Regions from separate parts of the Homo sapiens genome. Here region 1 is linked to region 2. The links come from fine-mapping of genetic effects on gene expression. A gene starts in region 2. The other region holds a variant in brackets. All regions are shown on one strand. Distances are from middle to middle. Region 1 overlaps TRPV3 (transient receptor potential cation channel subfamily V member 3). Region 2 holds the start of SPATA22 (spermatogenesis associated 22).

Region 1 (2,910 bases), 41 kb before region 2:
GAGGTCAGGAGTTTGAGACCAGCCTGGCCAACATGGTGACACCTTGTCTCTACTAAAGATACAAAAATTAGCCGAACGTGGTGGCAGGTGCCTATAATCCCAGCTACTCGAGAGGCTGAGTCAGGAGAATTGCTTGAACCTGGGAGGTGGAGGTTGCAGTGAGCTGAGATCACACCACTGCACTGCAGCCTGGGTGACAAGAGGGAAACTCCATCTCAAAAAAGAAAAAAAAGAAAAAGAAAAAAGAAACACACTATGCAGAGTGATATATTTCTAAAATATATATTTTTTTAAAAAGCAGATTTCAACAAAATCCAAGATTCTTCCAGGAACAACAGCAAAACCACTCTCAATGCATTTGAAGAAGTCGAGGAATTCCCGGAAACCTCGGTGTAGAAGCGGAACCCAGAGCTGGTGTGCGCGTGCGCTGTCTGGCGCTGCAGGCGGAGTCACCGACTCTGTGCAGAGAGGCTTTGAGGGATGGTGGAGTCCGGCTCTGCTGGCCTAGAAGCAGAGTGCACCCTCGTGCTCAGTGCTCAGTGGGTGTCTGAACTGAGGGGCAGTTGTCAATTTGTCTGAGTGGGAAACATCCTGGATTTTGTTACTTGGCAAACAGCTGGTGTAAACCTACAGCCAGCAGCAGTCTGGAGCCTGGGAGCCTCCTGAAGTCCCGGGTGAAGCCTCTGGTTTTACCAATTGCAGGTCGGCTTGGCTGGGAGAGATGGATGGCGGGAAAGGGGCAGCAGTCTTGAGGAGCAGGGAGAGGAGTCTTTCCTCCTGCCAGCTTCCCCCGTCAGCCCCAACCCCAGCCCACACATTGTACCATCTCTTCTGCTGTGACTGGGTTGCCTGAATTTGTGGGAGACCCGTGATCCCATCCCAGAGTGTGCGGGGGACGGAGGTAAGCTGGATATCCTGGGGGAGGAGGGGAATGCGCTCTGGAAACACCCTTCCGGAACCCTTCGGGGAAAAGGAGACCATCCTTGGAGTGAACGTCCCCTGACACCCCAAGGTTCAAACTGTCTCAAGCTGAGAGATGTTTTTAGTAGCAGAATTAACACAGGGTTTTAACTTGCAATACGGAAAAGACATTTCAGTTGAGAATGAAAATTACTACAATGAAGTTTGTGATTTTAAAAGTGGAGACAGACTGGGGGCTTTGGGGCTGGATGTAAGTATTATATATTTGGCCTCAGGGTGCCCAGAGCAAGACAAAAAGCTTTTCTTCACACACACAAAAGTCTGCATGAGACACTCCGGGCAAGTCCTGCTGGGCCGCCGCGATCTGGGTGAAAGG[T/G]CCTGGCTCTTTTCCTCGTCCTGACCTCACAGTAGCGCGTGCCTGTGTGCTGGGATCGTGGCTTTCGCTGAAGCAGAAATAGCAGCTGCTCGATCGATATCATCTTGGAACTCAGCAGTTAGTCGCATACCTCAGTATGTCTCAGTGGGGGAATTTAACAAAATGCCTCAACTGCTTTGGTACGAAGTATTTTTTTTTTAATTTTAACTGTGAATTTTGAAGCTGAAGGGGAAGCTTGTGAGAGAAAAGCATTTGCCAAGACTTTGAGCTTATTTTTAGGTCCTCGTCCTCTGATGTTCTCTTTCTGAAATGACACGGAGTCAGTCTGGGGGGCAGAGGTGAAGTGGAGACGGAAGGATTTTCCAGGTGACTGGGGCCGAAACCACCAGAAAATCCACTCTGCCGCCGTTATCTGGTGAAAGGATTCATGTAAAAATGTTCGAGGTGGAATTATAAAAATAGTAACCATAAATGTTAATCTTAAATGGCAGAAATAGAAATTTGGCCTTCAGATAACATGGCGATAGATAAGTTCATCTGGCTTGAGGCAAACTGAAGAGTCGGGGCCTAGCAGTGCACTCTGGGCCAGTTTCTCTGCCCTGGGCCACTCTGTGTGCCAGACTAGCTGGACAGATAGAGACTTTGTGCCCCTGATGGGGCCGATTGGGGAGAGGTGGGCTGGGGTGTGTGAGGCTTCACAATCCACAGCAGCCCCTGCCCTCCCAGCTGACCCAGGGAGTAATCGCGTGCTCTAAGCCACAGTGGTCGGGGCTGGGCATGGGCCTCTGGAGAAGAGAAGATTTGAGGAGAACTGTCCTAGAGGCAGGAGGAGCAGATGTGTTTCAGAATGGGCAGAATTAGGAAATTGAGAAAGATTTTGGCTCAACAGAATCCAGCAACTGCTCCAGATGTTGGAGATGTTTAAGCAGAAGCTGGTTGCGCACTTAATGAGGAATGTTGTTGAAAATGGTCATTGGAAGAAGTTTAAGGTCCCTTTTAGCCTGGAGATTGTACAAATCAGCATTCCACATCTGGAGTTAGCTACCCGCATTAAGCCTGAACAGACATCTTGGTCTGAAAGGAAGTGGTTTGGATTCATGATGCCAAGCTCCACACTATGGAGCTGGGAATTCCAGAATTGCTTTGACTCAGATATTAATGGAGAAAGTCATATCCATTAATGGATAAAGCCGTATCTGTTATGGATAAAGCCGTATCCAGAGTTGCTTTGACTCGGATGTTAATGGATAAAGCCAATTATTGATTTCTATTTGCCTAACCTGCCAGCTTTTGTCCAAGTGGGGAATGGAGAGCCATAGGGATGTTTGTCATCTCACATGTTTTGGTGATCTGCTGTCTGTGGGTCTGGATGGAATTTGTTGGCAAGACCATTTTCTGTATTGGATATTCTTCCCAACAGTGTCCACCCCAAAAGGCTTTCAGCCAAAACGTCTGAGCCTAGGTAGGTTTACCAAGGGAAGCCATAAGTCAAGAAGCATCAGAGTGAAAAGGAGCACTTCCTTCATTTTACGCCCAGAGGCTAATGCTCCGAGAGGAATGTGTACTTGGGCAAAGTCATGCAGGAAGGTCATATCAGAGCTGTGGAGGCTGGA
Region 2 (2,910 bases):
TTTTTTTTTTTTTTTTAATGAAAAATCTATTTTTGGGGTGGGTGGGTGTGTGTTGTAAATGTATGCACATCCGTATGTAGATATCAAGTCAAAATCTGCTTCCCTGAAGCTTCTATTCATGTTTTGGGTAACTCCTCTCTGGAACCATGATAAATAACAAGTTTTATTTTTATTGTTCAAGTCTTCTTCTTCCCAAAATAAAAGATGGCCCTATTCCTTGAAAGCTGTTCCTTACTCTGGCATTCAAGGTCTGCTATTATCTGGTCTCAGTCTACATCTAATATTATTTTCTAACACTCTTCTTTACTTGAGATAGTTTTAAAGCAACTACTAAAATGTCTGTGGTCTTATAGGCCTAGGCCTTTACTAACAATCTTCCTTTCATCTCTAAGCCCTTCCCTATCCCAGTCTTCAAATGGTTAGAAGATACGGTAACAACAAAACATGGGCTTTGAACTCAGACAGCTCTAGAATCCACTACCTGGCCCATAGTAAGTTCCGGATAAATGGCAGCTACTGTTACTCAAATTAAATAAGGGCTAACAGTTACTGGGCATTTACTGTGTGCCAGGATTGTCTATTTCATCTTCTAGTATTTTTAGGGCGATTGTTGTTATTGTTCTTTTACTGGTAGGTCCAGAGGGTGTTCAGTAAGTAACTTGCCCAAGGTCACAGGGCCAGGAATCCACAGTCCTCTTTGCCAGGAAGCCTGGAGCTCAACGCCCAGGGTCGCACACCACGCGGCTTCCCCTGCAGAGCGTCTCTGCGGCTCACGGGCGCTTCCCTCCCGCAAGCTCCCGCAGCCCCGGCGCTGCCTCGCTGACGGCTCTCCGCCTTCCATGGCCGCCATCTGAACCTGGGCTTCAGCTCTGTCCCCAGCCTCCCGGGGACTCAGATTCCCTGACCCTGATCCGACCCAGAAATTGAGCCAGACACCTCGGGTGGCCTTCGAGTCAATCTCTGGGCACACTCTGGGTGGCCACCAGCATCTAACAAACGGATGTCTGGACCCTAAGGGCCAGGGGGTGAGGGGAAGTGGGGCACACTTTTTAGACGATGGTGGGGCTGAGGCCGGTTGGGCAGGAGATCTGCCTCTGTCTCTCCAGTCACAGGACAGTCTCCTTTCCTCTCTGGGCAAAACTCTAAGGAGCTGGAGCCATCCCTGGGTCCACAGTGTGAGAACGCCAAGGAAGAGCGTTAACGTCATCGCGCCCGGCCAAGGGCGGCCAGGCAGGCAGCGAAGATGCCATCGCGCCGAGGTGGCGGCCACTGCGCCTGCGCGGTCCACGGCGCCTGCGAACAGCCTGATTCCCGCGCTTTCTTCGCGGGCGGGAAGGGCGGCGGTTGCTGACGGGGCCGCCTGGACGACGGTTGACGGAGGCGAGGGAAACTGAGGGCGAAAGTTGTGTGTCGTGTTGGCAGGAGGGCCTAGAAGGGAAAGACTGTGCGTTGATACCAAACTGCCCCCACTCCGTGGGCGGGTCAGGAGAGGCCTTTGGAAGAGCGTCTCAACTCGGACTGGAGCCTCTTCTCTCCCACCGCGGTCAGGAGCCAAAACAGGCCGCCATTTGAGGCCGTGGTTTTTGTGGGTGGTGTGTGTGTGTGTGCGTGCAGATTGAGCACACTTTTTGCACACCAATGCCACCAACCCCATTACTAACGCCACTTAGGTCCATTTGGGAGCTGGGATTGGGGGTAAATGAGGGTCCCCGCCCTCAGGATCAATGGTCCCGCGGGTGGAATGTTACACTTAAAAATTTTGTTGTTGTTTATTCTGTTTGTTTGATCCTGAGAAACATAATAGCCCTCGTAAGCCCCTCTAAATATAGGATGTGAGTTGCGCCGGTGGAGAAAGTGGCAGAATCCCTGTTGTGGCTCCTAGGATGGCGCCAAGAATATTTTCCTTTCCTTTCCTTTCCCTTCCTTCCTTCCTTCCCTTCCCTCCCTCCCTTCCTCCCTCTCTCCATTTTTTCCCTAGAGTCTCGCTCTGTCGCCCAGGCTGGAGTGCAGTGGCGTGATCTCGGCTCACTGCAACCTCCGCCTCCCGGGTTCAAGTGATTCTCCTGTCTCAGCCTCCAGGGTAGCTGGGATTACAGGCACGCACCACCATGCCCGGCTAATTTTTGTATTTTTAGTAGAGACGGGGTTTCACGTTGTTGGTCAGGCTGGTCTTGAACTCCCGACCTCAGGTGACCCACTTGCCTTGGCCTCCCGAAGTGCTGGGATCACAGGCATGAGCCACTGCACCTGGCCACCAGGAATATTTTCTAAAGGGTCCATCTCTTCTACCCAGCTTCAAGCCTAAGATGTGGAAACAAAACAGAGGCAGCACCTGACCTCGTGTTTCCCAAGTTGTTTTTTTTTCTTTTTTTTTTGAGACGGAGTCTCGCTCTGTCGCCCAGGCTGGAGTGCAGCGGCACGATCTCCGCTCACTGCAACCTCCGCCTCCCGAGTTCATGCCATTCTCCTGCCTCAGCCTCACGAGTAGCTGGGACCACAGGTGCCTGCCACCACGCCCGGCTAATTTTTTTGTATTTTTTAGTAGAGACGGGGTTTCCCTCTGTTAGCCAGGATGGTCTTGATCTCCTGATCTCGTGATCCGCCCGTCTCGGCCTCCCAAAGTGCTGGGATTACAGGCGTGAGCCACTGCACCCGGCCTGTTTCCCAAGTTTTATTTTTACAAACGATATTTGAAAGTTAACACCTCGGCCTGACTTGCATTATTGCTTAGTTGTGTATGTGTCGGTCTGTCTGTCTCATTGGGTTGTGAATTTGGAACAGAAGTTACCTGGTTTGGGTTTGTATCTTGCCTCTTCTTGCAGTGGGCAAGTGTTCGTTGTATTAGATTGGGGATGAAATGTGTTAAGGGGCTAAACGTGCAAAATTACAAGAGAAATTCTATTGTAAAAG

Evidence for each region.
Region 1: its variant is fine-mapped to the expression of SPATA22 in skeletal muscle (GTEx, PIP above 0.99). The same link has a PIP of 0.9 or more in esophagus muscle, gastroesophageal junction, spinal cord, subcutaneous fat and tibial nerve.

Annotation. Positions count from the first base shown.
Region 1 is chr17:3,511,403-3,514,312 of GRCh38, reverse strand. TRPV3 (transient receptor potential cation channel subfamily V member 3) reads left to right here. Exons shown (of 18, transcript NM_145068.4): 18 at 302-2,910. The coding sequence ends at 396. It also overlaps a transcript of SPATA22 not described here. Among named protein-coding and RNA genes, the nearest start is that of ASPA, 37 kb to the right of the region's middle. The variant T/G (reference allele first, on the strand shown) is at 1,298.
Region 2 is chr17:3,470,216-3,473,125 of GRCh38, reverse strand. It overlaps SPATA22 (spermatogenesis associated 22), which reads left to right and starts at 1,307. Exons shown (of 9, transcript NM_001170698.2): 1 at 1,307-1,444.